Homo sapiens: one gene and its partner. Each later gene encodes a partner of the first gene's protein in a complex. Links are inferred from orthologs where the notes say so. Each region holds a gene or a part of one and is shown in the gene's direction. Other genes may lie near its edges.

Region 1 (11,663 bases):
TTGTGGCTGCTGCAGGAAGCACCTGGCCTGTTTGGATGACAGTTGACACCCAACTCAACACTTTTTAACCTCCCTTCAAGAATAAGCCAATGACTGAAAATGAAGACTCAGAAGGAGTAGAGTTTTCAACAGCCCTATCCTTCTAAGGGGCCTGCAGTTTTCTACCTCAATATCAGGGATAGGAGGTTAGTCAGAGAAGCTATTTGCCAGGTCTATATTTTTCTTTCTATCCACATACTCAAATAATAGGCTTCTTTCCCCTTTTTAAATATGTAAATTTGAGTCAAGACTCTGGGGTTAAGTATTATCTGGTAGAACTATGGAAGTGGCTTAAATTTAGCTTAGAAGCTCTCTATAAATTAAATCAGTCCAGAAGCCATTCTGGAACTTTCCTCTCTCCAGCTTGTACTCCATGACCCATCCCTTCAACAATTCCCTTACCAATATCTTCAGCTCCCTAATCATGCTACCCCAATCCTGCTTCAATTAAAAGGTCTGCCTGCTCCACTTCTTCACTCAGACATCTGGGCCCAAGTGAAGAGAATCACATCATCACATAACCAAATCAAATGGCACGATTATCAGTACTTGATCTTCAACTGCTACCAAGTAATGCTAAATTATATCCCTCAACTCTCTCTTCCATTCTCCAAAGCTGTCATTTCTAACTTCACCACTCTGCCCACACCTCCTACCTTACAACCTTGTTCTTAGCAAGTGAACATGGTGCCTACTTCATAAAGAAGACAGAAACAGTTGTACGCAGAAGGTGCTTCCACCAACACCATTCTCTCCTCTTTCCCTTGATTATAATCAAAGAAGTGCCTTCTCCCTGCCCAACCTATGATCCAGGCCCATTTCCTCTCATCTCCATGGTGAGCTGACCCTACGAATCATCCACTCTATTTCCTAATGTCACCCACTCACTCCTCCACTACTGTGCTCTTAAATCAAAACAAACACAAAAACATCTCTCCTTGCTATCAAAATCTCCTTGAAAGCATTGCCTACATTTTCCACCTCCCCTGCCTAAGTCCACCCACCCCCACCACTCCATCCACACTGTTCCCGCCAAATTACGGTGGCCTCTCATGAACACTTTTCCATTCAGCAATAGATATGGTTGACCACTCAGATCTCACCAAAACAGTCTTTCCCTTTGCCTTCTGTGACAGCACACTCTGTATTTTCCTCTTACCTGGAGGTATGGCATCTTTTGTATCAGCAACAACAGTGTGGAAAGGAATGTGTATATGTGTATACAAGAATGCACTCAGGAAAACTCATGGCTGCTGCTTCTCCAGCAAAGAAGACACACACATCCATAAAGATGAAGATATTAGGAAGCCATATCTAAATAACTGGAGCTGGGAAGTTTATCAACATTTAGGCTGTGCCATGCTGAGGTTGGCATCGTTAATTCCAGTCCCCTCTGAACTCTCCTACTTGCCTCACCTGCTGAAGTAAGAGCTCCTCTGCTTTGAGCCTCTCCATCATTTCCTGCTCCATCAGAGCTAATTCTCTTTCACGCTCCAGCTTGGCCATTTCCTTTTGTCTCTAGCATTGTTTAAAAACAACAGCACACGACTTCTTAGCGAGAAAGCAATTTGTAAAAGCAATCTTGAAAGCACTTAATAGGAACAATTAGGGAAAGTGTTAAGCAAATTATAGCCCATCCCTGTGGAAATGATATAATAATTTGGGAAGATATTTTATCTGAATAATGAGCACAATATTAAAGTTATACATTGTGTATGATCACAAGTACATAAACGTAAATCTATAAATCTATAGAAAAAAGACTTCCCATGAAAGGAATTACCTAAAAATCTAAATAGAAGTCTTCTTTGGGTAATGTTTTCTCCTTCCTGCTTTTCATGTTGTTCAAGTTTTTGTATAATAAACATTATTTTTATAACAGAAAAATAATAATGTTAAACTTTTTTAAAAGCAGACAAGTTGGACCAGTTTTTTTTCTTCTAATTTCCTAGAAGGAGATTCCTACTTACCAGTTGTTCCATGGTCACATTTTCCTTATACTTGTAAATCCACAATGCTAAATATTCTATCGGATCCACTGGGCGAACTCTTGCCACTTCTGCAAGACCTTGAGTTAAACAGGCCCCAAGGTGCTTTTGAAGATATATTGACTCCATTTCTAACTCCTAAAAAGTAAGTGTTTTTGCATTACTGCAGGATATTTTCAATAAAGTCACTATAAAACTAAAGTCCAGTGAGGTGAACAAAGCCTTACATACACCCTGCCCTCAGTCATGGACACCTCCCATTGGGGGTGTCACAAGCAAGCTGGCCCCAGGAAACTTCTAATAGTTTCCAAAAGGGCTCCAAGGAAGTCACTACAACTAACATGGTTTCAAAATCCTGAAGGACTCTCAAGTCCAAGAGTCAGAAAAGAGATATTATCATTATTGATTCCAAGTTTACTTGATGCCAAGTAATGTGGGTCTCATGTAATCCTCACAACATACCTGAAAAATGGGTATCATCATCCCAGTGGGAAGATGAGCAAGCCCAGGCACAGACAGCGTAAGTGCACAGTTCAGGATCACACAGCTGGCAGATGAAGGAGACAGGGTTTGTACCCACCTCTTGATTCCAAAACCCTAACCCTAAAGACTACACTAAAATGTTCCTCCTAAGCCATGAGAGCCGTTTTTACAAAGCATCACAATAGTCCACCTTTTGAAAAAAAAAAATCCATAAATTTCCAAGGCCAAAGAATAAAAACTCAGCCTCCAAATAATAACATATGAAGCTCCTCACAATCTGGCCCCAATTTTCTTTTCAAGTTCACCTCCAGACATCATCTCTCCTGGCCCCAGCACACCCTGGGCTCTAATTCCATGGACATGTCTGGCTAATTTTTTTTGTATTTTTAGTAGAGACAGGGTTTCACTGTGTTAGCTAGGATGGTCTCGATCTCCTGACCTCGTGATCCGCCCACCTCGGCCTCCCAAAGTGCTGGGATTACAGGCGTGAGCCACCGCGCCTGGCCGACCAGATTGTTTTTAAAACAGAAAAGGAAAAATGGAGCAACCAATCTCTTTCAGATGCTTTGGAAAAATTGATCACCCTCAGATTACCCTTAATATTTTAAGAAATCGGCTGGGCACAGTGGCTCACGCCTGTAATCACAGCACTTTGGGAGGCCGAGGCGGGCGGATCACAAGGTCAGGAGATCGAGACCATCCTGGCTAACGGATCTCCTTCATCTGCCAGCTGTGTGATCCTGAACTGTGCACTTACTCTGTCTGTGCCTGGGCTTGCTCATCTTCCCACTGGGATGATGATACCCATTTTTCAGGTATGTTGTGAGGATTACATGAGACCCACATTACTTGGCATCAAGTAAACTTGAAATCAATAATGATAATATCTCTTTTCTGACTCTTGGACTTGAGAGTCCTTCAGGATTTTGAAACCATGTTAGTTGTAGTGACTTCCTTGGAGCCCTTTTGGAAACTATGTGAAACCCAGTCTCTACTGAAAATACAAACAAATTAGCTGGGCGTGGTGGCGGGCGCCTGTAGTCCCAGCTACTTGGGAGGCTGAGGCAGGAGAATGGGGTGAACCTGGGAGGCGGAGCTTGCAGTGAGCCAAGATCGTGCCACTGCACTCCAGCCTGGGCGACAGAGTGAGACTCTGTCTCATATATAAAAAAAAATATATATATATATATTTTTTCCTGAGAATCTGATGAAATGTAATCAATTGTTAAACAAATGTATAATGAATATTTGCCGGGCACAGTGGCTCACACCTGTAATCCTAGCACTTTGGGAGGCTGAGGTGGGTGGATCACCTGAGGTCAGGAGTTCGAGACCAGCCTGGCCACAATAGTGAAATGCTGTCTCTACTAAAAATACAAAATTATCTGGGCGTGGTGGCACATACCTGTAATCCCAGCTACTTGGAAGGCTGAGGCAGGAGAATCACTTGAACCCGGGAGGCAGAGGTTGCAGTGAGCTGAGATTGTGCCATTGCACTCCAGCCTGGGCAACAAGAGTGAAACTTCGTCTCAAAAAAAAAAAAAAAAAAAAGAATACCTATTATAGGTCAGGCACCATGATAGGTACTGGGAATACAAAACTATTGTGAATTGAATATCTGTGTCCCCCAAAAATCCATATGTTGAAATCCTAACTCCCAATGTGATGGTATTAGGAGCCTTTGGGAAGTGATTAGATCATTAGTGTGGAGCCGTCATGCATGGGATTAATGCCCTTATAAAAAGAGATGGGAGAGCGTGCTCTCACTCTCTGCCATCTGAGAATAAAACTAGAAGACAGCCACCTGCACACCAGCCAGAGGGTCCTCACCAGACACCAGAAATGCCAATGCCTTGATTTTAGACTTCCCAGCCTCCAGAATGGTGAGAAATAAATGTGTATTGTTTTTAAGCCACCCAGTGTTGGTAATTTGCTACAGCAGCGCAAACTAAAACAAAAACAGTCTCTGCCTTCATGGAGCTTATAGATGAGAAAGGAAGATAAATATTTAAATCAATAAATATGAAATTGCAGTTAAAATAAGTACTATGAGACCAGACAAGAGGAGTAGCTGATCAAGTCAGGAAAGTAAAAAAAAAGCTTCTTTGGGGGTGACATTTGAGCTAAGCTTACATTTACTGAAAAAAAAAAACAGTAAAATTAACACGACAAAGAAGAGAAGAGTCTTCTAGGTATGAGGAAAGGCCCTGATATAGGAATGAGCATGGCAATTACAGGGGATAGAATGCCACTGTGTCTAAACTTGTCCCTGGACAAATGCATCTAGCATTTTGCATAAAATTTCAGAGACAGTGACATCCTGGGGTCCGTCCATAACCCCCAATTTTTATTCTATGGATGAACCCCAGGATGTCAGTGTCTCTGAAATTTTATGCCATAACTATGTGCATATGCCATATGACAGTGGTGGGAGGGCAAAATGGTATAACTCCTATGGAGGAGAATTTGACAACATCTAGAAAATCACATATGCATTCACCCTTTGACTCATCAATCTTGCTTCTTGGATCCTATCTCAAAGATATAGTTGCAAAAATATGAAATGGCATATGCACACAGTTATTTGCAGCATTATTTACAATAGTCACACTGAAGCACCATCTAAATGTTCATCAAATTGGGGATTAATAAGAGCAACACAATGGATTATTATGCAGATGTACAAGAGAATGAAGAAACTAGAGAGTGATCTCTAAGACACAGAATAAAGAAAACGAGGTGCTGAAATTGTATATGGTCTGTCATCTTTTGTATTAGCAACAGCAGTGGGGAAAGGAATGTGTATGTGTGTATATGTAAACATAGTCATAAAAACTCTAAAAACGGAAAACAAACTGGCACAAATGAACCTAATTCCAAATGAGGTTGATATTGGTGTCTCAACCATACAGAGAAAAGAATTATTACAACTGACTTTGGAACACAGTATCTTCACTGTATTTCTTCAGTAGGATATACCTGAAAGACCAAAACGCTACACAGACATCTCAAAGTCATTTGAAGTGAAGTTAAAAAAAAAAAAAAAAAAAGGTGCACAGACTCCTGTTGCTGCTCCAGAAGGATAAAATGTGGGAAGGGAGGAAGGGGACCATTATCCCTAAAGAGAAAACTTCTGGCCTACCAGCGGGGCCAGGTCAGGGGAGGCTCTGTCTCGGATTTCTGGGCATATCAGTGGGACCCAGGCAAGGCCTGCCAACTCCCTTAGCATGTTCCTGTCTGTGAAACGAGGATAATACCCATCTCTCCTGTGGTAAGCAATGTTATTTTTCACATACACCAATAGGCATCTTGGCTCAACATAAGAAAGCCCTTTCCCACAGAAACAGCTGCCTCCAGCGTGAAGAAGGTGCCACAGAGATGGAAGGAGATTCCTTACCCACACCTGGGAGACAGCTAGCCAGCCAGCCAGCCAACTGGGCGGGGGCACCCGGGCAGGGGTGCCAGATACAGTATTGTATCTGGCAACCTCCCGGGGCGCTCAGTGTGGTTTTCCCACCCGGGAGTCTGGAAGGGTCTCCCGCAGCCCGCAGGAGACGCAGCGCTCCCCGCTCAGGGGGAGCAGGAGGACAGCTGGCCGCTTTCGGGAGCCCCAGGCGCGAAGCGGCCTCTCTCCGCCTCAGGTGAGTCCTGCTCGACGCCCAAGGCCCAACGGTCAGAACCGCCTCTGCCCGCCGGACCCAGCGAAGCTAGGGGAACAAATCCCAAAAACAGTTCGGGCCTTTCCGGTGCGCTCACCCCTACACACGCGCCTGCTCGCCACCCAGGAGCGGCGTCCCGTTGCCAGGCAACGAGAGCTCGCGCCTCAGGAGCCAGTGTAGGCGCCGCAAAGCGGAAGGGGCGCGCGGATAGGTGAGCAGAGGGCACGCGGTGGGCAGCGAAGGGGGAACGCGCAGCAGAGAGGAGAGGGCGTGCAGGAGTAGGAGCAGGCGGCAGAGTAGAGGGGGCGCGGCAGAGTAGAGGGGGCGCGGCAGAGTGGAGGGGGCGTGCAGGAGTAGGAGCCCGCCGCAGAGTAGAGGGGGCGCGGCAGAGAGGAGGGGGCGTGCAGGCGCGGGGCGCCCGGCAGAGAGAAGGGGTCGTGCGGAAGGGGGCGCGCGCCAGGGGAGGGGGCCAGAGAGGAGGGGGCGTTCAGGAGTCGGGCCTGCGGCAGAGATGAGGCGGTGTGCAGGAGGGAGAGCGCGCACGAGGGGGCAACGGGCAGAGAGGAGAGGGAATGAAAGAAGGGGAGCGTGGCAGAGAGAAGCGGGCGCGCTCCAGGGGGCGGGGTCCAGGGAGGAGGGGGAGCGTAGGATCGGGGCGGGAGGCAGAGAGGAGCGGGCACGCGGGACGGGCGTGTGCTCGTGAGGGGTCGAGGAAAGGCGTATGTGGAGGCGCGCGGGGTGGGTGAGCCGAGGAGACTTGCTACACAGAAACCTGGAGGAGTAGGGGCACACAAAAGAGCAAGGGACCCTGACTGGCAGCCCGGCATGCTCTGGGAGAGACAAAGAGGTGGCGGGCTTTGAGGAGGAACCAGGAAGGGCAGCCAATCGGAAAAGGGTGGAAGACCTTCCAGAGTCCCTGGAAGACCGTCACTGCAAGCTGCTAATAGCTTGGCAGTTTCACAACTCTGCACCTTTGCTCTTGCTGGTGACCTCTGCTTGGTTCCTTTCAGAACCAATTCGGGTGCCCCACCACCGGGAAGCCGTCCAGTCTCCACCAGGCCCAAACCCTTGCAGTCTTCCCTGGCCTAGTCGTCTGTGCATGTGCTAGCCTTTCCTGTGCTCTCTTTCAGCTTATGGGCGGGGCAGTGCCAGGCAAGAGAGGCCTTAATAGATGTTAGTTGAGCTAGTAAATGCCAGATTGGGCGTGGAAAAATCAAAGGGAAGCATGAGGGCAGGTGGCAGAACTCTCTCAATGAATAAGTCAAGAAATATTTACAGAGCTCCCAGTGTGCCAAGCGTGGGCGGTATACAGTAAACAAAGACAACCCCTATTCTTATCACCTTGCCTACTGAGTGCAAGTCCAGGAACTGTGTAAGCAGACCCTCAGAGGAGCTCTGGGAAACACTGAAAAATAGCCTCTCCCCCCATTGGTGAGTGTACCCTAAGTTGGTCTGAGTGGGCTTTAAAAGGCATCCCCTTGGCCAGGCGCGGTGGCTCACCGCCTGTAATCCTAGCACTTTGGGAGGCGGAGGTGGGCGGATCACCTGAGGTGAGGAATTCAAAACCAGCCTGGCCAACATGGAGAAACCCCATCTCTACTAAAAATACAAAAATTAGCCAGGTGTGGTGGCGCACACCTGTAATCCCAGCTCCTCAGGAGGCTGAGACAGCGGAATTGCTTGAACCAAGGAGGCAGAGATTGCAGTAAGACGAGATTGTGCCACTGCACTCCAGCCTGGGCGACAGACCAAGGCTCTCTCTTAAAAATAAAAAATAAAAGGCATCCCCTTGACTCCTTCCCCTCCAGCCCTCAGATTATGGCTCTATGCTGGCTCTACTGTCTTTGTACCATATTTTAGCGACTGTTGGGCAAACACATTTCCTTCAGATCATTGTTGAAAATGGGCAATTTAGAGTAGGGGGAGGTATGCCAATACGGCTTGCCACATGTAACCAGTGTGGCAGCCACCCCCTGACTAGAGAATGCAGAGTTGGTGATTCTGCCTTCGGGGAAGGACAGTTCTACAGTGATCCAGGCAAAGTAGATTGGTAACTACAGGTCGCTTGGAGATTTTATTAACATGCAGGTTCTGAATCTGTGGTGGGACCTGAGATTCTGCATCTCAACAAGTCCCAATGTGTCCAGAATTGGTGGGTTCTTGGTCTCACTGAGTTCTAGAATGAAGCCGTGGACCCTCACAGTGAGTATTACAGTTCTTAAAGGCGGCGTGTCCAGAGTTCGTTCCTTTTGATGTTCGGATGTGTTCAGAGTTTCTTCCTTCTGGTGGGTTGCTGGTCTCCCTTCAGAAGTGAAGCTGCAGACCTTTGCAGTGAGTGTTACAGCTCATAAAGGCAGTGCAGACCCAAACAATGAGCAGCAGCAAGATTTACTACAAAGAGCAAAAGAACAAAGCTTCCAGTGTGGAAGGGAACCCAGAGCAGGTTGCAGCTGCTGGCTCAGGCAGCCTGCTTTTATTCCCTTATCCGGCCCTACCCACATCCTGCTGATTGGTTCATTTTACAGAGAGCTGATTGCTCTGTTTTACAGAGAGCTGATTGGTCCATTTTGACAGGGTGCTGATTGGTGTGTTTACAATCCTTGAGCTAGACACAAAAGTTCTCCAAGTCCCCACTAGATTAGCTAGACACAGAGCACTGATTGGTGCATTTACAAACCTTGAGCTAGACACGGGGTGCTGATTGGTACATTTACAAACCTTGAGCTAGACACAGAATGCTGATTGGTGTATTTACAATCCCTTAGCTAGACATAAAGATTCTCCAAGTCTCCACTAGACTCAGGAGCCCAAATGGCTTCACCTAGTGGATCCCGCATCAGGGCTGCAGGCGGAGCTGCCTGCCAGTCCCACGTAGTGTGCCCGCACTCCTCAGCCCTTGGGCGGTCGATGGGACCGGGCACCGCGGAGCAGTGGGTGGCGCTCATCAGGGAGGCTCCGACAGCACAGGAGCCCACGGTGCGGGGGAGGCTCGGGCATGGCGGGCTGCATGTCCGGAGCCCCGTGGGGAGGCAGTAGAGGCCCGGCAAGAATTCGAGCAAAGTGCTGGCAGGCCGGCACTGCTGGGGGACCCAGCACACCCTCTGCAGCTGCTGGCCCAGTGCTAAGCTCCTCACTGCCTGGGGCCTGCAGTGCTGGCCGGCTGATCCGAGTGCGGGGCCCACCAAGCCCGCGCCCACCCGGAACTTGCGCTGGCCTGCGAGTGCCACACGCGGCCCCATTTCCCGCCCGCGCCTCTCCCTCCACACCTCCCTGCAAGCAGAGCCGGCTCCGGCCTTGGCCAGCCCAGAGGGGCTCCCACAGTGCAGCGGCGGGCTGAAGGGCTCCTCAAGCATGGCCAGAGTGGGCACCAAGGCCGAGGAGGTGCCAAGAGCAAGAGAGGGCTGCCAGCACGCTGTCACCTCTCACCCAGGTGATGGAATGCTGCTGGTCATCTGTCGTCAGACTAGCTTTGAGTAAGAGGGGTGTAGAAGTTTGTTTATCCAAATGCATTGGTTCAAGTGGGCCACACAGATTGGCAGGAGACACCACCCACCTCTGTCCCCACCCTCCATCACTACCCCACTCAATTTTTTTTTAATTCCCTTACAGGTCTTGGGGTCAGAAGTCCAAAATGAATCTTATAGAGCTAAAACCAAAGTGTCAGCAGGGCAGGTTCCTCAGGAGGCTCTGGGGAGAATCCATTTTCTTGTCTTTTCCAGCTTCTAGAGGATACCCTTGGCTCAAGGCCCTGAATCACATCGCTTTTTCTCCCTTGGCTCTGTCATCACCTTCCCTGTCTGACCGTACTGTGTCCCTCTTATAGTGACACCTGTGATTACATTGTTCCTACTCAGATAATCCAGGATAATCCCCCTATCTCAAGATCCTTAATTTAATCACAGTTACAAAGTCTCTTTTGCCATTTAAGGTGACATATTCATAGTTTCCAGGTATTCAGACATAGACACATTTGGGAGCCATTATTCAGCCCTAGAACAAGGACATTCTCTTACTCATATTTCCATTATTCAAAATTAAGAAATTTAACTTGGATAAATTATGTCACATAATCTACATTTCACATTCAGTTCAACCAATTTTCCCAACAATGCCCTTTATAGAATTCTTTCTTCTTCTTTTCTTTCTTTCTTTTTTTTTTTTTTTAGACAGGGTCTCGCTCTGTCACCCAGGTTGGAGTGCAGTGGTGAGATCTCAACGCATTGCAGCCACAACCTCCTGGGCTCAAGTGATCCTCCCACCTCAGCCCTGCCCCCAACCCCTCCAAGTAGCTGGGACTGCAGGTGTGTGCCATCACACCTGGCTAATTTTTGTATTTTTTGTGGAGACAGGGTTTTGCCTTGTTGCCCAGGCTGGTATCAAACCCCTGAGCTCAAGTGATCCTCCTGCCTCAGCCTCCCAAAGTGCTGGATTTATAGGCGTGCACCACCATGCCCAGCTGAATTATTTTTTCTTGTCCAGGCCCAATCTAGGATCATGTGTTACATGTAGTTATTATGGCTGTTCAATCTCCTTTGATCTATAACAGTTACTCTTTTTTTTTTCATACCCTCAACATTTTTAAGAGTACAGGGTAGTTGCTTTGGATTTATTTGATGTTTCTTCAATTACATTCAAATATTGCATTTTAGGCAGGAATCCACGGAAATGTTTTATGTACCATAAGAAGTGCATCACATCAGGAGGCAGTTGATGTCACTTTGTTCCTTTGTTGGTGATGTTTACTTTGATTACTTGGTTAAGGTTTTGTTGGCCAGGTTTTGCCACTGTAAAATTTCTGTATTTCCTTTGGAATTAATACTTAATTTGTGAGAAGAAACTTTGAGACTATGCATATATCTTATTCCTTGTCAAATGATCACCCAGGTTTAGCACTCATTGACTCATTGATGATCCTGCTTTGATTCAGTTATACTATGGTGGTGAGGAAATGGCAGTTTTTTAAAACTCCATTATTTTCCCCACATTTATTAGTTGGCATTCTACTTTAACAAAGAACTTTGCCTTCTCCCTTCTTAATCTACTTATATATTCTCATATGGACTCATGGATTCTTATTTTATTCTGTAAGTTATAATCCATTACAGTCACTATTTTAATGGTCAAACTGCCCCAGATTTGACTAGTAGGAGCCCCTTCAAGCTGGCTTCTCTGTCCCCAACGATTGTATTTTTTAGAATTTTCTTACTTTCTGGCACAACAAAATGTTCCAGGCTCGTTAGGCTTGTCCTGCCCCAGCCTTGGAATCAGCCATTTCTCCAAGGAGCCCTGATTCCTCTTAAGTGATGAAGGCTATTTACAAGCAAGGTTTATATGCTTAGCGTGCTCATTGCTACTGAAGTGTTTTGGTTTCAAGGCCCTTGCAGTGGAGAGAGCTAGGAAATATTTTTTCCTATGTCCATAAGATAGATATGTATAAGATAGATATGGATATCTGTCTACTTGTTTTTCCTTCCTTAAGCTAAAATATGAGAAG
Region 2 (12,571 bases), on another chromosome or scaffold:
AAATTAGCTGCAGGGCGTGGTGGCATGTGCCTGGAGTCCCAGCTACTTGGGAGGCTGAGGCAGGAGGATCGCTTGAGCCCAGCAGGTTGAGGCTGCAGTAAGCCACGATCACACTACTGCACTCCAGCCTGGGCAACAGAGCAAGACCCTGTCTCAAAAAAAAAAAAAATTGGCTGGGCATGGTGGTTCATGCCTGTAATCCCAGCACTTTGGGAGGCTGAGGCGGGTGGATCACTTAAGGCCAGGAGTTTGAGACCAGCCTGGCCAACATGGCAAAACCCCGTCTCTATGGAAAATACAAAAATTAGTTGGGTGTGGTGGTATGCAACTTTAGTCCCAGCTACTTGGGAGGCTGAGGCAGGAGAATCGCTGGAACCCGGGAGGCAGAGGTTGCAGTGAGCTGAGATCATGCCACTGCACTCCAGCCTGGGCAACAGAGCAAGACTCTGTCTCAGAAAAATAAAATTAAAAAATTAAAAGAGAAAACAATAGATATTAATAACTAAGTCTGCTTGGCCAGATAAGGGGAGATAAAAAGCTTCAGATATTAATTAGGAGCATGTCTTAAGAAAACCTCATTACCCACCTGGGGGAGATAGAATATTATTTGTGAAGTTACTGTCTCTTTTCTTCATGTTTTATCCTCATAGGACTGATCTAAGCCAGGATGACCCTGTTCAGGATCATTTGCTATTTAAGAAGACTCTCCTGCCAGTCTGGAAGATGATTGCCAGTCACAGGTAGGTCTCCAAAGTGGTAATAGGATTATGTTCAGAGCTGAAGCAGTAATACATATTGGGGTTTAAGCATAAAAGGAGATATGTTCATCCCTCAAATGAGCCATAGTTGAAAGGTAGATTCTGTATCTAAGCCCGATTTATCCCAAAGTACCCACAGCTGCTTTCACAAGTCTGTACAAGAAATAGTTGCTGTGCCATTTGAGTTGCCTCTAGAAATTGGTTCCTACTACATGATAAAATTTATATTTAAAATGTATATTCTTCTTTTCAATCTGGTGGATTCTCTTTTTTCACAGAGACAGGGCCTTGGGAACTTTGAACAAATTTCTGAGCCCTAAATCAGTATATTGTAATAATAGTGAAATATTTTATAGTTTTGTGTTTTTTTTAACTCTCTGGCAAGAGGGAACAAATAGATTTTTTCCTAATGGTGCTGACAGTCTGCATTCCCCTAAAGGAAGTCTACTAAGAACTGAGCTACTCTTCTCCTTCAGAGTGCCTTGCCAGGGTTTCTTTATCCTCTCTGGGTTTGTCCCTTAACAGGTTCAGCAGTCCATTTCTGAAGCCTGTGTCAGAAAGGCAGGCCCCAGGGTACAAGGATGTGGTGAAAAGGTCAGTGAAAAAGGGGTCAAGAAAGGTTGGTTGCTTTTATATCTGCCTTTTCATTTTTTATTTCCCATCTGTTAGATTATTTTTATAACTTACAAACTCAAGATATGTTTCATAGCCAAACAAGTTTATAAAGTTATGATGAGCTCAGTATCATATCTTCATTTAAGAAGGAATGCAGGGAACAAAAGGATGATATAGGCTTTTTATTTTGTACTATTGACTTTTAAGTAATATGATCCATTCTATATATATATATATTTTTTTTTTTTTTTTTTTTTGACAGGGTCTCACTCTGTTGCCCAGGCTGGAGTGCAGTGGTACAGTCTTGGCTCACTGCAACATCCTCTTCCCAGGCTCAGCTATTCTCCAGCCTCAGCCTCCCAAGTAGCTAAGACTACAAGCATGAGCCATCACGTCCGGCTAATATTTGTATTTTTTGTAGAAACGGAGCTTTGCCATGTTGCCCAGGCTGGTCTTGAACTCCTGAGCTCAAGCAATCCACCTGCCTAGGCCTTCCAAAGGCTGGGATTATAGGTGTGAGCCTTGGTGTCCAGCCTGATCATTAATTATAATCTTAAATTAGCCTTTGGTTGTTTTTGACACTATTCTTTTGGAGCAAAACTTTAAAAGGAACCCTGTATTTATTCAGTTAGTTATAGGTATAGTAAGGCACAGATGTCGATCCAAATGGAAGTTATGAACATTGGTTGATTGTAGTATTGTGTCCGGAATTGGTTCCTTCCGGTGGGTTCTTGGTCTCGCTGACTTCAGGAATGAAGCTGCAGACTCTCGTGGTGTTACAGTTCTTAAAGATGGTGTGTCCAGAGTTTGTTCCTTCGGATGTTCAGATGTGTCCGGAGTTTCTTCCTCCCGGTGGGTTTGTGGTCTCGCTGAGTTCAGGAGTGAAGCTGCAGACCTTCACAGCGAGTGTTACAGCTCTTAAAGGTGGCGCCTCTGGAGTTGTTCGTTCCTCCCAGTGGGTTGGTGGTCTCGCTGGCTTCAGGAGTGAAGCTGCAGACCTTGGCGGTGAGTGTTACAGCTCTTAAAGGTGGTACATCCGGAGTTGTTTATTCCTCTTGTTGGGTTCGTGGTCTTGCTGGCTTCAGGAGCGAAGCGGCTGACCTTCACGGTGAGTGTTACAGTTCATAAAGGTAGTGCGGACCCAAAGAGTGAGGAGCAGCAAGATTTATTGCGGAGTGAAAGAACAAAGCCTCCACAGTGTGGAAGGGGACTCCAGCGGGTTGCCACTGCTGCCTTGAGGGGCCAGCTTTTATTCCCTTATTTGGCCTCCTCCACATCCTGCTGATTTGTCCATTTTACATAGTACTGATTGGTCCATTTTACAGAGTGCTGATTGGTCCATTTTTATAGAGTGCTGATTGGTGCGTTTACAAACCTTTTTTGGTGCGTTTTTACAGAGTGCTGATTGGTGCATTTACAAAGCTTTAGCTAGACACAGAGCGCTGATTGGTGCATTTACAAATGTTTAGCTAGACACAGAGCGCTGATTGGTGCGTTTTTACAGAGTGCTGATTGGTGTGTTTACAAACCTTTAGCTAGATACAGAGCACTGATTGGTGTGTTTACAATCCTTTAGCTAGACAGAAAAGTTCTCCAAGTCCCACCCAACCCAGAAGCCCAGCCAGCTTCACCTCTCAGTATTTTGGGATTTTATTTTTATTTTTTATTTAAAAAAATTTTTTTGAGACAGGGTCTCACTCTGTTGCTGGAGTGCAGTGGTGCAATCATGGTTCACTGCAGCCTTGACCTCCTGGGCTCAAGCAATCTTCCCACTTCAGCCTCCGGAGTAGCTGGGACTACAGGCATGTGCCACTGCACTTAGCTAATTTTTAAATTTATTATTTTTTAAATTTTTACTTACTATTATTTTTTGAGACAGGTCTCACTCTGTTGCTCAGGCTGGAGTGCAGTGGCACATTTCTTGGATAACTGAGCCTCAACTGCCCAGGTTCAAGCAATCCTTCCACCTCAGCCTCCCTAATAACTGGGTCTAGAGGTGTGTGCCACCATGCCCGGCTAATTTTTGTATTTTTTATAGAGATAGAGTTTCACCATGGTGCCCAGGCTTGTCTCAGACTCCTGGGCTCATGCAGTTCACCCACCTCAGCCTCCCAAAGTGCTGGGATTACAGGTGTGAGCCACTGTGCCTGGCCTGATATTTTTATTATAATAAAATATTTTCTTTGTTTGAAATGTTATTAATAACTTTATTTTTCTTCAGAATATCACTGAGGAGGAATTTTTAAATTTTTTGTAGATATGGGGTCTCACTAGATTGCCCAGGTTGGTCTTAAGCTCGTAGTCTCAAGCAATCCTCCCACCTCAGCCTTCCAAAATGCTGGGATTACAGGCAGGTAATCCTAGCCTATTTTGGATTTTTTTTTTTTTTTTTTTTTGAGACAGTCTTGCTCTGTCACCAGGCTGGAGTGCAGTGATGAGATCTCGGCTCACTGCAACCTCCGCCTCCCGGGTTCAAGTGATTCTCCTGCCTCAGCCTCCTGAGTAGCTGGAACCACAGGCACACGTCACCACGCCCAGCTAATTTTTGTATTTTTAGTAGAGACAGGGTTTCACTATGTTGGCCAGGATGGTCTCAATCTCTTGACCTCGTGATCCGCCTGCCTCGGCCTCCCAAAGTGCTGGGATTACAGGCTTGAACCACTGTGCTCGGCCTATTTTGGGTTTTTATAGCATAGGTCATCTAAAATGCTGTCATAAACCTGTATGGTAATAGAATGTAAAAGATCATGATAGGACCTTTGGAGAGTCACTAGTCTGTGCTGCTATAGCACAATACCACAGGCTGGATAATTTATAAATAATAGAAATCTATGTTTCTTTGTTTTGGTTCTGGAGGCTGGGAAGTGCAAGATCAAGGCATTGGTAGTTTTGGTGTGTGAGGTGGGTTACTCTCTGCTTCTGCTTCTAAGATGATGCCTTGTTGTTGTATTCTGCAGAGGGGACGAATGCTGTATCCTCACATGGCAGAAGGGACAGAAGGATAAGAGGGCACTCTCTTCGATATGGAGCCCTTTTATAAGGATGCTAATCCCATTCATGAAGGCAGAGCACTCATGAATTAATTACCTCCCAAAGGCTCCACCTCTTAATACTGTTGCACTTGGGATTAAGTTTCAACATGAATTTTGGAGGGGATACCATCATTCAAACAGCAGAGACAATGATACCATCATTCAAACAGCAGAGACAAACTTCTTTAGGAATGAGGAAACTAAAGCTCAGAGGTGCTTGGTCATGACTTGCTCGTGATCAACCAACAGTTAATAGCAGAGCTAGAACTAAGCCCCAGATTCTTACCTGCAGTTCAGTCTTCTTTCTACACTGCTGTGCCTTCTCTTATATATCTACTTTCTGTGTCTCATTAATATTGTCTTAATATTCACTTGATCCTTTTTTCATCTCCATGAAAGGAGAAAAAAATTATTCTTAGCTTTTTATTTGTGCAGTAAGAGAAGTAGATGAAATAATATATGACTATACATTGTAAACAGCAAATAACTACTGTGTGATAAACTGATGATTGGTGCTCTTTACAACTTTGATACCTGGGGCCAGCACTCCTCCTCTGATAGTAGAATATAGTGGCTTGACCTGTGGGCTCTGGAGTCAGGCTGCCTCTGAATTGGAATTCAGGCTGTGTGCCTTTCAGTGAGTACTTAACCTCTTTAGATTTCAATTTCTTCATCTGTGAAATGGAGATAATAAGGCCGGGGGCGGTGGCTCACACTTGTAATCCCAGTACTTTGGGAGGCCAAGGAAGGTGGATCCCCTGAGGCTAGGAGTTCGAGACTAGCCTGACCAACATGGTGAAACCCTATCTCTACTAAAAATACAAAAATTAGCTGGGCATGATGGCGCACGCCTGTAATCCCAGCTATTCTGGAGGCTGAGACAGGGGAATTGCTTGAACCTGGAAGGTGGAAGTTGCAGTGAGCTGAGATTGCTCCATTGCACTCCGGCCTGGGCAACAAGAGTGAAACTCCGACTCAAAAAAAAAAAAAATGAGATATTAATGATACCTACCTTACAGGTTTATTGAGAGGATTAAGTGAGTTAGTATAGAAATACAGTGTTTGGCCCATTGTAAACAGGCAAATATTAACTGCTGTTGCTATTTTATTATCTGATGAGGGTTGTTATCTTTGCTACTGTTTTCATTAAGAACTGGTTAGTTCTTCAAGAGAACGTGTTAGGTTATCATATGTTCCACATGAAGGTTTGATTTTCTTTGTTTTTTCTTGGCCACCTGCAGACCCATGGACTTAACTAGCCTGAAGAGAAATCTCTCTAAGGGTCGGATTCGCACCATGGCCCAATTCCTGCGAGACCTGATGCTGATGTTCCAAAATGCTGTAATGTACAATGACTCTGATCATCATGTATACCATATGGCTGTGGAGATGCGGCAAGAAGTCCTGGAGCAGATTCAGGTACTGTATGCAGATACCTGTAGCCTCTGGAATCTTGATTTCAGAACGCCTATGAGAATAAAGGTGATTTCGAGGTGACTGTGTTCTCAGAGTTTATTTTTAAAGGTGATTAAGGCCCTGAAGGATTGATAATGTGCCTGCTGGTTTGGAAAACCCTGAGCCTCAGTAAGTCCAGCTCTGATAGTGAAGTAGTCTAGGAATGCAGGCAGCAGTGAAGAGCTCTCAAGAGAGCTGAGGATAGACAAGTAATGGGAATTCCCGCTTCCAGAGCCTCAAGTCAAGGGCTAAACTCCAAAGAGGCTGGAGTCACTGTGTATTTTTTGGTTGCTTCATCTGTTGTTATTAATGTACGTTCACACTTTCCCATCTTTAGGGGATAAGATATAGTAGCTAGAAGACATTTGTGGGTTTCTTTTCTGGGTAGCATCATACTTTAAAGAAAAAAGTATAGTTGAGTCTATTTGCCAAAAAAATAAACTTGCAATACTTTAGTGTTTAAGGTTCATAATAGCTTGCTATGTGTTCCTTAACCCTTTAGGTACTGAATATCTGGTTAGACAAAAGAAAAGGCTCAAGTAGTCTGGAAGGAGAACCAGCTAACCCAGTGGATGATGGAAAACCTGTTTTCTAACCTGGAGCTGCTATCCTGACTTTTTCTAGAGTTTGAATCTCTCCCGGAACTCTGACCTAGAGAGGATCCTGGTACTTCTTTGCCATGTCCTCATTTTCTTTTCCAACAAGAATAATACCTTAACTCACAACCAACGAGTCAAAGATGCATGTGGACATAATATAAAGAAAAAAAGGGGAAGCTGAGGTTTGGATTTATGCCATAAATGTTGCCCACATCTTTGTTCCATCGGCTTGATTTAAAGACAATTCCATTAGATCTTTTCTAAGCCTTTTACTCTATAAATAAATGTATTTACACAATAGGAATATTGCTTTTTAATGACTAGATAAGCTGGGCATAGAGGGCACAGCATCATCTGGTGAAACGAAGGTATCTGACACGGGTCATTTACATATACCGCCTGGAAAGGAATGGTTGGGGGAGGGGTTCTTATCATTTATAGAGTAGGGATAATTGAAGCATCCTTCAAACGGGAAGAAGGATGAAATAAGATAAATTATGAGTAAAATGTCAGAAAACATCTAGTGCTCTAAGATTCACAAGGAGAATAAAAGTGACTGGCTGGCTCCCTTTGGTTAAAACGAACTGGCCAGAAGCTGCAAGGTTCCTTGCTGGGATTGGCTCTCTGCAGCCACCGTCCCCACGCTGGGGCTTCAGGTCTCCTAGCAACAAGTTGTACCATATGAGGACGGCCGCTGAGGTGAGTACTTAGAGAGGGTCAAATTCAGAATTTGCAGGTGCAACCCGGAAAGTCCCCGCGGACCTAGAGGCCCTGCTTTTCAATTAGCCTGACCCTATGCACAGAGAGGTCCCTGCGGGACAGGGTCGCTTCACAGAGGCAGCTGGCCGAGGCCGCTCACCCGCCGCTGTAATGGTGTGTGGTTGCCCACCAGCCACCGTCCCCTCGAGCCCCCACCACCCGCTCTACCGCCCCCTCGAGCCCCCACCACCCGCCCCACCGCCCTCTGCTGCCTGGGGCTGTTGCTGGTTCCAGGCCTTCGGGTCGCCCCTTGGCCTCTGGTTATGTGAGCCCATAGTCCTTCCTGCCTTGGTGACATCGTATACGAAAAGCCGGGGCTCGATTTGGACATAGTAGGAATCCTATTATTGAGACCCTGTATATAGAAAAACATGGCAGTTTCTACCTTCATCAGTTAATAAAATCAAGTACCTACTATTGCTATTCTTAATCATAATTACATTGAATTTGCGATGGGGGTGGGGGGAAATGCATGTCATTGCAGTTGATACCTGTTAAGAAACTCTTAATTTGTGCCCTGAAAAGCCATAATGGAGATATCAATGCCTCCACCTCAGATATATGTAGAAAAAACTCTGGCCATTATCAAACCAGATATTGTTGACAAAGAGGAGGAGATACAAGATATTATTCTTAGATCCGGATTCACCATTGTTCAGGTAACTTCTGGGTATGATGATTCATGCTTTTTTCCTCTCTGCCCTTAAAAAAAAAATGCTTATGTAAATGTGCCTACCCATTTAAACCCTTAGTGTTCAGCATTAAATTTAAGTTTATTCTTCTAAGTATAAAAGTTATATGTGATAGTTTTTAAAAGGATGTAAAATGAGAAATAAAATGGACTTTTCCTTCACCTGTCCTCTTTTACCCCAAGTCCCAGGCTCCAGAGAGAGGCAACCACTTAACACTTTCTGTTCTTCCAGGAGTTTTCTATGCATTTATAAACATTTTCCCCCCATAAAACAGAACAGTCCCTTTCCCTTGACCCCTTTACAGAGTCCCTCAGATAGGATTCCAGATCATTGCATCTGAATTGATCTCACTCTTCCTAATTTCTGTGTAATATTTCCCTGTGTATTAGAACTACAATTTATTTACTTGATCTTCTATTGATGGAATTTTAGGCTATTGGTACTTTTTTCAGTTATGGCATAACATTTAATGTTTTAAGCCTTATGTTCTGCAATTAGTAAACATTGTCATTCTAGGGGTTTGAAAGTGAATATAAATAGCATTGTTAAGGATAAATCAAATAGAATTGAATATTTTTAATCTTCCTCTTTTATAGTTTTTTTTTCTTTTTTTTGAGACAGAGTCTCCCTCTGTAGCCCAGACTGGAGTGCAGTGGTACGATCTCGGCTCACTGCAACCTCTGCCTTCCAGGTCCCGGTTCAAGCAATTCTCCTGCCTCAGCCTCCTGAGTAGCTGGGATTACAGGCATGCACCACCATGTCCAGCTAATGTTTGTATTTTTAGTAGAGACGGGGTTTTACCATGTTGGCCAGGGTGGTCTTGAACTCCTGACCTCGTGATCCACCCGCCTCGGCCTCCCAAAGTGCTGGGATTACAGGTGTGAGCCACTGCACCCCGCCTCTTTTACAGTATTCTCATTCGAACTTCCAATTTTTTATTTTCTCCCATTTATACAGTGTCATATTGCTTATTCAGTCAGTATTTTTAAAAATAAAGAGAAAATGGCGGGTACGGTGGCTCACGCCTGTAATCCCAGCACTTTGGGAGGCCGAGATGGGTGGATCATAAGGTCAGGAGTTTGAGACCAGCCTGGCCAATGTGGTGAAACCCCATCTCTATGAAAAATACAAAAATTAGCTGGGCGTGGTGGCGTGCACCTGTAGTCCCAGCTACTTGGGAAGCTGAGGCAGGAGAATCGCTTGAACTCAGGAGGCAGAGGTTGCAGTAAGCCAAGACTACGCCATTGTACTCCAGCCTGGGCAATAGAGGGAGATCTGTCTCAAAAAATAAATAAATAAATAAAGAGAAAATATCAATCTTCAGAAAAGATACGGAATTTCAGTTGAGCTTCAAAGGACAGGTGGAGTCCGAGAGTAGGGATGGCACAAGAAAGTGTTAGGAAGTATTTAATATGATTAAAGACTCAGGTAAATAACTTTTTAGTAAATGTTAGGAAAACTGGTAGCCACTGAAAAATTTGGATCAAGTATTATATACCAGGATAAACTCCAAATAAACCTGAGATCTACATATTAAAAAAATTAAACCATGTAAGTTCAGGAAGAAAAGATAATGGATTTATTTTGTTGTTGGAGTAGGACAGCCTTTTTTTTTTTTGTTATGACTTAAGGTCTAGGAGCCATGGAAGAAAAGATTGATAAGATTATATCAACAAGGCCAGGCACGGTGGCTCATGCCTGTAATCCCAAAACTTTGGGAGGCCAAGGTGAGTTGATCACCTGAGGTCAGGAGTTTGAGACCAGCCTGACCAACATGGAGAAACCCCATCTCTACTAAAAAATACAAAATTAGCCAGGCGTGGGGGCGCATGCCTGTAATCCCAGCTACTCAGCAGGCTGAGGCAGGAGAATCGCTTGAACATGGGAGGCGGAGGTTGCCGTGAGCCGAGATCGTGCCATTGTGCTCCAGCCTGGGCAACAAGAGCGAAACTCTCGAAAAAAAAAATTTTTTTAATTTAAAAAAAGATTATATAAACAAAAAATTTCTGCACAATGAAATAAACACCATAAGCAAAGTCAAAACACAACAAACTTGGGAAAAAGATTTGCAACTCATAGACAAAGGGCTTGTCTTCTTAATACATAAAGAGCTCCTAGAAAAAGATAAAAATAAATTAGTAGAAAAATGGGCAGAACAGATGGATGGTCACAGAAAAGGAAAAACATTTTTTAAATATATGAAAAGATGCTCAATCTTTAGGTGGGAAAAAAAGCAAGTTAAAACTACACTGAGATTCCATTTGGCAAAAATATAAAAGTAAATGGCACAACCCCTATCAAAGGGAATCTGGCAGTTATCTACCAATACAACAGATGGACTTACCATTTGATCCAGCAGTTCTGCTCTTGGAAATCTGTCCTATAGAATTCCTTGTGCTCTTACTACCTGTCATGCGCAGAGCCCTGTTTAGTCCCATCAGTAGGTGCCTGTATTAATATGAAGTGATATATATGCAGGTTATTTTTTGCAGCATTGTTTACTTATCAACAAAAGATTGAAAATAACCCAGGTTGGGAGATTGGGAGACAGGACTAAATAAACTCTGGAAAACCCATCAAATTGCATAATATGCAACTAATTGTAAATAGAAGAATGAGGAACCTGTCTGTACTGTTAACGGAAGAAAGCAAAGTGTGTAGCAAAAAGAACAAAATAGCAAAAAAAACACAAAATCATGTGTACCAACCTTTTGTGATAGAGACAAAGTAATATATTCATGTTTGCCAATATTTGAAAAATGGAATTCTGGGGAAATAAACATTTAAAAAGGGTTGCCTATTGAGGGCAAGGAAGAACTGAGTAGATTAGGAAATGGATAGGAATAAGATTTTTCAGTATATACCTTTTTGTCTTGCTTTGAATTTTTGAATCCTGTAATTATATTACCCATTAACTTTAGAAAAAATAAATGAAGTATACAGATAAAGGCGTCCCATTTAAGTTTTTTAAAAGTCCGTATTTTGCCCGGGTGCAGTGGCTCATGCCTGTAAACCCAGCACTTTGGGAGGCCAAGGCGGGTGGATCACCTGAGGTCAGGAGTTGGAGACCAGCCTGACCAACATGGTGAAACCCCGTCTCTACTAAAAATATGAAAATTACCTGGGTGTGGTGGCACGTGCCTGTAATCTCAGCTACTGGGGAGGCTGGGGCAGGAGAATGGCGTGAACCCGGGAGGCGGAGGTTGCAGTGAGTCAAGATCGTGCCATTGCACTCCAGCCTGGGCGACAGAGGGAGACTCTGTCTTGAAAAAGAAAAAAAAGTCCTTTTTTTTTTTTTTGAGACGGAGTCTCGCTCTGTGTCGCCCAGGCTGGAGTGCAGTGGCGCAATCTCGGCTCACGGCAAGCTCCGCCACCCAGGTTCACGCCATTCTCCTGCCTCAGCCTCCCGAGTAGCTGGGACTACAGGCACCCTCCACCACGCCCAGCTAACTTTTTGTATTTTTAGTAGAGACGGGGTTTCACTGTGTTAGCCCGGATGGTCTCGATCTCCTGACCTTGTGATCCACCTGCCTCGGCCTCCCAAAATGCTGGGATTACAGGCGTGAGCCACTATGCCCGGCCAAAAAAGTCCATATTTTAAAAAATATTTAGTGACGGCCGGGCGCGGTGGCTCACGCCTGTAATCCCAGCTCTTTGGGAGGCCGAGGCGGGCAGATCACAAGGTCAGGAGATTGAGACCACAGCGAAACCCCGTCTCTACTAAAACTACAAAAAATTAGCCGGGCGCAGTGGCGGGCACCTGTAGTCCCAGCTACGAGGCAGGAGAATGGCGTGAACCCGGGAGGTGGAGCTTCCAGTGAGCTGAGATCGCGCCACTGCACTCCAGCCTGGGTGACAGAGCGAGACTCCGTCTCAAAAAAAAAAAAAAGTGACAAACTTAATAATTAAGTGGCTAGTGTTAATTATAAATTAAAAATTAGCCGGCCGTGGTGGCTCAATCCTGTAATCACAGCACTTTGGGAGGATGAGGCGGGTGGATCACCTGAGGTCAAAAGTTCAAGACCACCCTGGCCAATGTGGTGAAACCTTATCTCTACTAAAAATCCAAAATTAGGGCTGGGTGCGGTGGCTCATGCCTGTAATCCCAGCACTTTCAGAGGCCGAGGTGGGTGGATTACCTGAGGTCAGGAGTTCGAGACCAGCCTGGCCAACATGGTGAAGCCCCATTTCTACTAAAAACACAAAAATTAGCCGGGCGTGGTGGTGGGAGCCTGTAATCCCAGCTACTCAGGAGGCTGAGGCAGGAGAATCGCTTGAATCTGGGAGGCGGAGGTTGCAGTGAGCTGAGATTTCACCACTGCACTCCAGCCTGGGCAACAAAGCAAGACTCCATCTCAAAAAACAAACAAACAAAAATCAGCTGGGCGTGGTGGCGCATGCCTGTAATCCCAGCTACTCAGGAGGCAAGGCTGGAGAATCACTTGAACCCGGGAGGCGGAGGTTGCAGTGAACTGAGATTGTCTGGGCAATGTACTGAGACCAGAAAAAACAAACAAACAAAAAAATTTAATGTAAATATATATGACACTTTCCCTAGTTAGTAACTTTCAGAGCAAAGGCAGCCATGGTACATCCTTCATTTTTTGCTTTAATTGCGGTAAAATATACACAACATAAAATTTACCATTTTAACCGTTTTT

Evidence for each region.
Region 2: the proteins of DYDC2 (region 1) and NME5 are in contact, whole or in part, in a cryo-EM structure (PDB 8X2U), measured with the Mus musculus proteins. The link is inferred for Homo sapiens from one-to-one orthologs. Residues at the interface, in NP_001347537.1 of Mus musculus: Asp2, Tyr5, Leu6, Cys9, Phe10, Gly13, Leu14, Leu18, Val21, Ala22, Arg23, Val24, Arg25, Pro26, Asp28, Pro29, Ile30, Glu31, Leu33, Ala34, His35, Leu37, Tyr38, Tyr40, Arg41; in NP_542368.2 of Mus musculus: Arg140, Ala145, Val146, Ile147, Ile151, Pro152, Ala156, Ala157, Tyr160, Ile161, Tyr164, Val165, Thr168, Leu169, Leu173, Leu176, Cys177, Lys180, Pro181, Asp183, Pro184, Tyr185, Leu186, Leu188, Ala189, Asp190, Leu192, Met193, Asn196, Pro197.

The regions. Positions count from the first base shown.
Region 1 is NC_000010.11:80,350,446-80,362,108, forward strand, and holds the start of DYDC2 (DPY30 domain-containing protein 2), read left to right. Parts: upstream 1-6,335; 5' UTR 6,336-6,380; intron 6,381-7,447; 5' UTR 7,448-7,600; intron 7,601-8,423; exon of another isoform or gene 8,424-8,454; intron 8,455-8,480; exon of another isoform or gene 8,481-8,500; intron 8,501-11,663. Other genes in the region: DYDC1 (DPY30 domain-containing protein 1), read right to left, coding at 1,456-1,557, 2,010-2,156.
Region 2 is NC_000005.10:138,133,958-138,146,528, reverse strand, and holds the start of NME5 (nucleoside diphosphate kinase homolog 5), read left to right. Parts: upstream 1-7,100; 5' UTR 7,101-7,140; coding exon of another isoform or gene 7,141-7,158; exon of another isoform or gene 7,159-7,625; intron 7,626-7,743; 5' UTR 7,744-7,748; coding exon 7,749-7,877; intron 7,878-12,571. Other genes in the region: BRD8 (bromodomain-containing protein 8), read left to right, coding at 651-740, 1,284-1,352, 5,647-5,824, 6,363-6,455. UniProt on the Homo sapiens protein: Functions as part of axonemal radial spoke complexes that play an important part in the motility of sperm and cilia. Does not seem to have nucleoside diphosphate kinase (NDPK) activity.